Linked DNA regions of Homo sapiens. The protein of the gene in region 2 purifies or fractionates together with the protein of the main gene of each other region. This does not show direct contact. Each region holds a gene or a part of one and is shown on either strand. Other genes may lie near its edges.

Evidence for each region.
Region 1: the proteins of SLC39A4 (region 2) and UXS1 purify together in Homo sapiens (affinity purification with mass spectrometry; 4 studies listed by BioGRID and IntAct, with this or other methods). This does not show direct contact.

The regions. Positions count from the first base shown.
Region 1 is NC_000002.12:106,096,802-106,100,521, forward strand, and holds part of UXS1 (UDP-glucuronic acid decarboxylase 1), read right to left. Parts: intron 1,973-3,720; coding exon 1,915-1,972; intron 21-1,914; coding exon 1-20. UniProt on the Homo sapiens protein: Catalyzes the NAD-dependent decarboxylation of UDP-glucuronic acid to UDP-xylose. Necessary for the biosynthesis of the core tetrasaccharide in glycosaminoglycan biosynthesis.
Region 2 is NC_000008.11:144,413,804-144,418,434, forward strand, and holds the start of SLC39A4 (zinc transporter ZIP4 isoform 2 precursor), read right to left. Parts: upstream 3,042-4,631; 5' UTR 2,987-3,041; coding exon 2,795-2,986; exon of another isoform or gene 2,406-2,794; coding exon of another isoform or gene 2,289-2,405; coding exon 2,007-2,288; exon of another isoform or gene 1,617-2,006; coding exon 1,424-1,616; exon of another isoform or gene 1,308-1,423; coding exon 1,171-1,307; exon of another isoform or gene 1,094-1,170; coding exon 922-1,093; exon of another isoform or gene 819-921; intron 632-818; coding exon 459-631; intron 293-458; coding exon 155-292; exon of another isoform or gene 153-154; intron 79-152; coding exon 1-78. UniProt on the Homo sapiens protein: Selective transporter that mediates the uptake of Zn(2+). Plays an essential role for dietary zinc uptake from small intestine. The Zn(2+) uniporter activity is regulated by zinc availability.

The DNA of each region.
Region 1 (3,720 bases), on a different chromosome or scaffold from region 2:
CTGAATTTCACTTCCGCTACCTGAGATGTTTAAAGAAAAAAAAGGTAGGAGAGAATCACAAAGCATGGGTAAGCACAGCCTTACCATCCACATCAAAGGCAAACCCCATATGTGGTGTGAATAGGGTGCAGGCGGTGGAAATGCAGTTCTCTGAGAAGCCCCGGAGCTCCCGAGGGACTGTTCTGCGTGGAAGTCCAGGGAGTGCTCCTGCAACTGCTGTGGCCAAGCTGACTGTGTGCAGGCGCCCAGCAAGAGCTCGGTGGGGGGCAGGTTATTCTGTCTCAACAGGCCTGAGTTACCGCCCACTACAAGAGGGTTGCTCCAAGGCAGACCACCCACACCAGGTAACAAGTGCAGACGTGCCCACCGAGCATGACCCCGGTGTGAGACCACAAACGTGGTGTGGGGCCATCCCTGAGGTGGATGCCCCAAGTGGGCCATACCTGGGTGCTCGGAGCCTAGACAGCCCTGAGACCCAAGATGTGCAGCCACCCAGCTGGAGGGACCTCTCGGAGGACGGCAAAGGCTGGCCTGTTCCACATCCTTGCTGGGCCCAGGCCCCACTGGCCAGCAGTACACAGCCCCACCAGTGACTGTGGGCCAGACCTGCAGAAGAAAGCCTGTGGAGGCTTTCCCTGCCTCCGTGTCATGGAGGCCACATTGCAGACTCTGCAGCGAATCACCACCACAGGTGGTTCAGGATGGTCTGTCACAAAGCTATATACAGAAGCACAGCAGGGAAGCTGCACGCCCCTCCCCCCAGCCTTAGGTTTCAAATAGTGTTTCTCAAGCGTCAGCACGCACGGATCACCTGAAGAGCCTGTCAACAGGCAGATCCTGATCTGGGGGCCTGGGCTAGGGCATGAGAGTCTGAATTTCTAACACACATCTGATGATGCTGCTGCTGCGTTGGCCCACGGGCCTCACTCTGTGCAGTGAGGGTGTGAAGGAGTGGATGGCACAGAGCTGTGATCTGAGCCTGCCCCTTCCTCACGCAGGAGGAACACACAGATTCAGGATGGAAAAGCTGGGAAGTGCATCGGAGCAGCTGTGGGAGCCACAGATGATGCAGGCTATGTCTGAGGAAGACCGCTGCTTCTACTGCCACGAGCAACGGGAGGATTCCAGCCATCCGGGTCGATTAGACCAATGCCGATGAATGGCAGCCTGATGCCAGGAAGGGCACACTGGAGGAATTAACCCAGCCAAGCGGGGTCTGAATGGTCACCTCAGGACACACTGTGGCATACTCCTCCTTGGCCTACCTGCCAGTCTAGTCTGGTTGTGACTTCACTCAAATTTCAGGATCAACCCCAGACAACAGACACCCTCCAAGAGTCTGACTCCTCAGAGCTCCAGGAAGTCTGAAGATGAGGCCAAGGGCTCATCCACTCTATGTCTGCAATCCAGGGCTGGTCTGGAAGACCTGACCTTCTCATGGCCTAAGAGTCCACCTTGATGGGGTGCTCCCAATGCTACACTGCCCCCAGTGGGTGGCAGCCAGGATAACCAGAATTGCAAACAGAATTTCAAACCTGCCTGAAGCACGCAGCTGGTGGTTGCTGTCTCTTGCTGTCTGAAATTCTATGCTTGACATGACCAGTTCGGAAATCCAATAGTTGTCACCCATGTAGGATGATCTAATACAATCGTGCCTCAAACACTGGGAGCAAATCTCCTCCTCCCTCCCACTTCATGCAAACCTGCAACGAAAACTGAGGAGAAACCAATCCTGCCCTCCTTTATCTTTCTATTCCTTAAAAATTAGAAAACACTTAAGTATTCCTGATAAAAAGTTCTGCTTTGATCCAATTCAATTAGCTTGTATTAATTACCCACTTTCTAGTCAAGGTGTTATTAACAGATAGGGCAGGCACAGTCGATTTTACTCAGGAAATGACTTATCCTACTTACCAACAAGGTTTTTAATTAACTGAGCAAATTCTAGGATTGTGTGTTCTTCTGGGTTCCCCTAAGAAAGAAACGGTTTCCAGTTATAAGCGTCATGACAACAGCAGCAATCCACCACCCAGACCACAGGCGTGTCTGCAGAGACGTCTACTGGCCGAGTCTGACCTCCCTGCGCTGCTTCAGCAGAGCTCCGTGTGCCAGAGGGTACTCCGCTTCCAAGATGACAGTTACTCACCTGGCAGTGCTAAACTGCACCATCTATACCTTCAGCCTCTAGGCTGCTGTGTACAAGGCTGGGCTTTGGATAGGTCAAGAGTTTCTGATGAAGGCACACACTCACTGAGTATCAGACAATTTCCATATCTAACATAACTTCAATGTCACTTTTATAAAAGCTTGGGTTTACAAAATTAGCTCTCCTAACACTATCTATTCCCGTCTGGGTGAGCTGTGTTAACCATGTCAGTGATGAAGGACTTGTAATCTCACACCCAAAAGCTAAGGCAGAAATGAGTAGGCTCACAGGCGAGTGTCCCCGGCAAGCCAGAGGACAAACTCCATGCATTTCATGAAGAGAGAATACTTGTGTGGGGGCTTTAAGGAAAACCATTTGCTCTTTTTCTCCCTCCCATCACACATCAGAGCACCTGTTACTCTTACTCTGCCACCACTGCCCTCATCATAAGAGACCACCATAAAGTCTGATAATTCTATACCCTAAAGCCTCTTCATGCCCAGGTCCTCGGTTAGCCTGAAGCTAGATGGTAAATGTGGAGGGAGAGACCCTGGGCCTCAATGGAGCACAGAGGGGATGACTAGCGAAGTGGAGTGACGGAAATTTGCAAGAAAGTGATTCTGCCTTTCTCCTGGCAGACACACGATTCCAATTTTAGGAATTGTCCCTGTGCAAAGGCCCTCCCCAAAGAGGGAAGGAGGAACATGGTATCTACAGAGAAGAGCCTGGCTGCCCAGGGAAGTCACTGACAACACCCTTGCTAAAGAACCTGCAACAAAAACGCAGAGCAGGGGCGCCTCGGGCCTCTCCAGTGTACACAGGCAAATGCTGCAAGCAAAATGAGGCTTACAGTGTGAGGCACGTTCTGGTCTGTTTTAAGTGAATTTTTTTCAAAAGTGGCACACTGTACCCATGAATCAGCAACAGTCCCAGAATGGAGTCAGCACTCCAGGGCAATTCTTTCCTACGTGATGAGAATTCCCTTTCACCTCAGGGAAAAATGCATGGTCTGCAATGTATTTGAGATGGCTGGTTACAAAGACATGCATAAGCAAAGGTGACATGGTTTGCAAGAAATAGGTCACATGGCCAACATTTTAGAGTTCCCTGAACTTTAGAGTGTTGTGTAGGAACCAGGAGAGGTAATTTGGGAGAAGCACCTGAAATGACCCCAAGGTAGGGTTAAGGGGGAGGTCTCTGTGAGCTAAGAGGTTCTTGTGTCCACTGCCATCAACAGAAGCAGAACATCTTGAATGCTGGACAGTCCACATTGGAAACCTTGCATTTTAAATGAGATGGAACAAAACTGCTCAGAAAATCACTCAGTGACAGAAAGGGTAAGAGGTCCTACCATGACCTTGGCTGATGCACCAAGGAGGAGGCAGCTTAGGGGGTAGGACCATCTCCTTCAAATCCTTGGAGAGTTACCACACTGTAGAGGCATCACACTAGCCATGAATGGCCCCAGGTGGAGAAGTGAGGTCAGTGGACAGGTGTGCAGAAAGTGAGATTTCTGGTCCAATATGAGGAAGAGCTTTCTGCCGGCCAGAACTGTCCAAAGACAGGGTGAATTT
Region 2 (4,631 bases):
TGCCAGCTGCAGGGACACACCGTGGCTGTGGCCCCCGTGGCTATGGCTGCTGTGGCCGCAGGGCCCGTCCTCCAGGTCCTGTGAGGGTAGGTGCTCAGTGTCCACCAGGCCCCCAGCACACCCACCCGCCGGGTACCTTCCCAAGAAGCCTGACCTCCGGGTCCCTGGGCAGCAGGAGATTGAAGAGGTTCTCAAACAGGAAGAAGGCGTAGAGCCCGGCCAGCATAGCCAGGAGGCGCCAGGTGGGCTGTGGGCTGAGGCCCTCTTCGCTGTGTGTATGCAGCCCCAGCACCTGGGGAGTAGGGGCGCTGGGCTGGGGGGGAGGTCCCAGGGCGCCTCCCACCAAGACCCAGGGAGAGGGGTCAGGAGGTGGGGTGGGTAAGGTCCCTGGGAGGGCACGGCCTGGGAGTCCATGGTGGGGAACGGAGGGCCAGGGTCGCGGGTTTGTGGGGGCAGACCTTGGGCGTCAGATGCAGGACAGCGTCCCCAGTGACTGCACCCACTGCCAGGCTCAGGAAGGTCTGCAGGATGTAGTGGGTGACCCCCCTGCAGCCAGTGCAGGTCAGCAGCAGGAGGCCAAAGACCGCGCAGAGGCAGATGAGCAGCGTGGCCAGGGAGCCGTACAGATACCCTGGGGGCGGGTGAGGCGGCTGTGAGAGCTTTTCTTCCAGACTCAGCCCCTGCTTCCCGGGCGCTGCTCACCAGAGCTGCAGGCCGTCAGTGTGGGCCAGGCCCTCACTCAGGCTGACCCTCCTGCCTCAAAGCCCCACTCTCCTGGCGACGCCACCTTCCCCTGTGTCTGTTGTTTCTACTTCCAGCCCCTGCTCACTCTCTCCATCCCTCATCCTGGGCAGCCACTCCTTCCTTCCTACACGGGCTCCACCTCTGTGCTGCCAGCACAATGTCGGCGTGGGCACTCACTCTCTGACTGGCTGAGCTGGTCCTGGACGGGGGGCCTGGACTGGGAGGTGCAGGCTCCACTCAGCTGCTGTTGGAGCAGGGCAGGGCTCAGTTGGGCCCAGGCCTCCGGGGTCACCCCAGCCTGTTCCGACAGTCCATATGCAGCCATCACGTCCCTGGCACTCAGGCATACCTGGGGGGTGGCAGGACAGGCTCAGGGGCCCAAGCAGACCCCGGTGAGGCCCCATCTTACCCCAGGGCGCAGCTCACCGTGTCCCACACACTGGAGCTGTTGCTGGAGCTGATGAGGGGCACAGGGTCCCGGCTGCTGGCTCCCCTGTGCCGATGACTGTGGTCACTGTGGGCCTCCCTGCCCACCCCCAGGCGCTGCATCAAGGCTGACAGCTCTGGCAGGGAGAAGAGTTGGCACCGCGAGTCTGTGTGGGCTCCGGCCCTGCCCCCCAGGGACGTGGAGGCTGGGGACTCGGGGGTGCCCCCCTCCACAGCCCAGCCCAGGCCTCACCGGCCAGCGTCATAGGGACCTCGCTGCTGTGCTGCTGGAACACAAAGTCCACGAAGTACTGAGGGCTCGGCAAGGCGTGGAAGCAAGACCCGCTCCTGACATGGTCCAGCAGGGCAGCCAGGACGCCGCCAGCACTGCCCGGAGCCCCCGCCCCCACCGCCTCCTCCAGCAGCTGAGGGATATCTACGCAGGCCTGGGGAAGAGGGGGCCTCCGCCTCAGCCTTTGGTGTGACCTTCTGCCATCCACCCCGCTGCCCCTGGATGCATCTCCCACCCCAACTACAGGATCTGCCCCCACCAGCCCCGCCCCTCCCTGGAGCCACAGCCCTCCCTGCCGGGCCCAGCTGCTTCAGGCTCCCACTCAGGCCTCTGGGTTCCTCCCTCATGAGGTCCCTCCCGGGGCTCCTACAGGCTCCCAACTGCCCAGTAGTGAGCCCCACGTTGTGAATCCCCAGCCGCAGGCCGACTCCTGGGCGTCTCCCCAGGCCCCCAGGCTCCCCGAAGGCTTTGCAGCCAGGCCGGGTCCCATGGGCCGTGGGACCCTCCTCACCCACTCCCCTGGTCTGCCTGGACTCTCCCTCACCATCTTGGGGGTCTGGCCGGCAGCCCGGGCCTGCATCCTCTGCAGCAGCCAGCTCAGGCCCGGGGTCAGGGCCTTGGGGCTCTCGAGCAGGGCCAGGAGGTGGTCTGCATGAGAGGCCCAGAGGCCAGCCCGAGCGTCCTCACAGGTGCCCTCGGGGTTGCTGAGGTACAGGACGGCGGCGGCACTGAGGCGGGCGACGTACCTGGCCTCCAGGACCGGGCCCGGGGGCAGCCCTGACCCCTCAGGCTCGCCCAGGCCCAGGGCGTCCTCCACAGACAGGCACTGTGGGCAGAGACAAGTGAGCAGGGGCGCTGGGCCCACCAGGGAGGGGAGAGGCAGGCCTGGCCAGGGGCTTCCCCGAGGGCCTGTTTCCCTTTCAAGTCCAACAACGTCCACCATCCTCTCTCAACCCCTGGCGCCCTTCCGTCTCCCCAGGCCCCTGTCCTGCTTCCCCAACTACAGGGGTGCACGCAGAGGGGTCCCCAACAGTGGTCCCCCATCCCCAGGGGACTCCCCTGGAGCCACTGCCAATTTGATGGCAGAGGGCCGGCAGGGGGAGTTGGCCCTGGGGTCCTGGGGAGAAGAGGGACTGTGTCCCTGGAAAGGCCTGTCTGCCCTCATGAGCAGGAGGGTGGGCTCTGGCCTGTGGGGAGGGTCAGGGTGCCCAGGTACTGCCACTAGCCTCCTCCGCCTCCTGGAGTTTGCCCAGGGCCCTTTGCTGCCGGCTGGCAGGGCGGAGCTGGCGGGAAGAGGCCAGGGCTGGGGGACCCGTCGGGTGGGGCTGTTACCTTTCCACACGGCCCGTTGGCGCAGTGCACACGGTCCGCCAGCGTATTTAACAGGCCGCCCAGAGCCTCTTGATCCAGAGCGCCCTGGCCAGAGGTGAGCAGGCTCAGCAGACCAGCAGGCGGGGACGCCGTCGCCGTCACCACCAGCACAGCCAGAAGCAGCCCCAGCTCCAGCGAGACCAGGGACGCCATACTCAGCTCCCAGCGTGCTCAGTGGGTGTTGCTGTGGCCAAGGCCCAGTGCTTCTGGGCTGGCTGAGGGCGGCTTTGCTGGGGTTGTCCAGGGCCAGACTGGGGCTGGGCTAGGACCCGCCCGGGCTGCATGAGGACCTCTCCCAGGTATTCCTGCAGAGCTCTGTGATTGGCTGCTGGAGATGCCTGGGTTAACCATTCCAGTGGCAGATCCTCCCCAACAGCCTGGAGCCACTGCCTGTGGGGGTCGAGGGCTGGGCCCCTTCCCCTGGACAGGCAGCCTCGGTGGTCTTTTTTTTTTCGAGTTGGAGTTTTGCTCTTGCTGCCCAGGCTGGAGTGCAATGGCGTGATCTTGGCTCACGGCAACCTCCGCCTCCCGGGTTCAAGTGCTTCTCCTGCCTCAGCCTCCCGAGTAGCTGGGATTACAGGCAGCGCCACCACGCCCGGTTACTTTTGTATTTTTAGTAGAGACAGTGTTTCTCCATGTTGGTCAGGCTGGTCTTGAACTCCCAACCTCAGGTGATTCGCCCGCCTTGGCCTCCCAAAGTGCTGGGATTACCGGCGTGGCTCACCACGCCAGGCCAGCCTGGGTGGGCTTCTGTCCTCTGCCTGCTGCCCCCCAAGCTGTGGGGCAGGGCTGGGGTGTCCCCTTCTGGCTGTCCATCTGGGGGCTGCCTCCAAGCTGGGGGACACAGGGCAGAGGTGCACAGATGCCCCCAGAGCCTGAGAGCTCCCAGGTCCCTGCCTCTGCCCCTCCCAACAGAGGCTGCCCAGACACCCTCGGTGGCCCCTGTTGGGGGTGGGGACATGGACCTCCCTCCTCCTGGGTCCTGGGCTGTGGTCCCTGTTGGGGACTGCGATGGAGTCAAAGAAACTGAAAAGGTGCCTGCTGCATCATGCTCCCTTAGGCCGGAGACAGCCCCAGGAAGCTCCAACACAGACAAACAGGAAGACGGAGCTGGGCCCTGGCAGCCACCTGGCCGAGCTTGGGTCAGGATAAGATTGGGGCAAGACCCCAGCTCTAGCCCCGGGGGCAGGGAGGCTGTGGCTCCCAGCCCTGCCCTCTCTGTGGGCTCCCTCTCTGGCCTTTGAGCCTAGAGGCCTTATCTCTACCGTGGTGGTGATGGCAGGAAGTCTGGGGGAAGGGGAAGGCAGATCTCAGGGCAGCTTTGCCTTCTGAAGGGGGAGTCCAGATGCCACCTCCCGCCCGGTCCAGCCAGCCTGACCCTGAGCATTGTGGGTGGGGCTGGGGTGGGGAGCTGGGTGCCTGAGGCCCAAGGACTCTGTCCCGCCATACACAGGGTGGGACGGGGCAGGGCGGGCATTGAGCCCAGTGTCCTGGGGTCAGGGTGCTTCCCCTGCCGGCCTCACCCCACCAAGCGGATCTCATGGTGCTCCTCTGGCTGGGCCCACCCGCAGTGGTATCCTTCTGGGGGCCCTTAGGGGAGCCTGCCGGGGGTGCAGATCCTGCCGGGGGTGCAGAGCCTGCTGGGGGTGCAGATGATTTCTGGGTCCCAGGACCATGAGGGGGCTGCTCTACACACAGCCTGAAGATGCTGCGGACCCAAACTGGCCCTTTCCCTCCCACACCACCCCAGGACCAATGGGCTGGCTGGAGGCCACCCATGCTAAAATAGGCTCAAGGG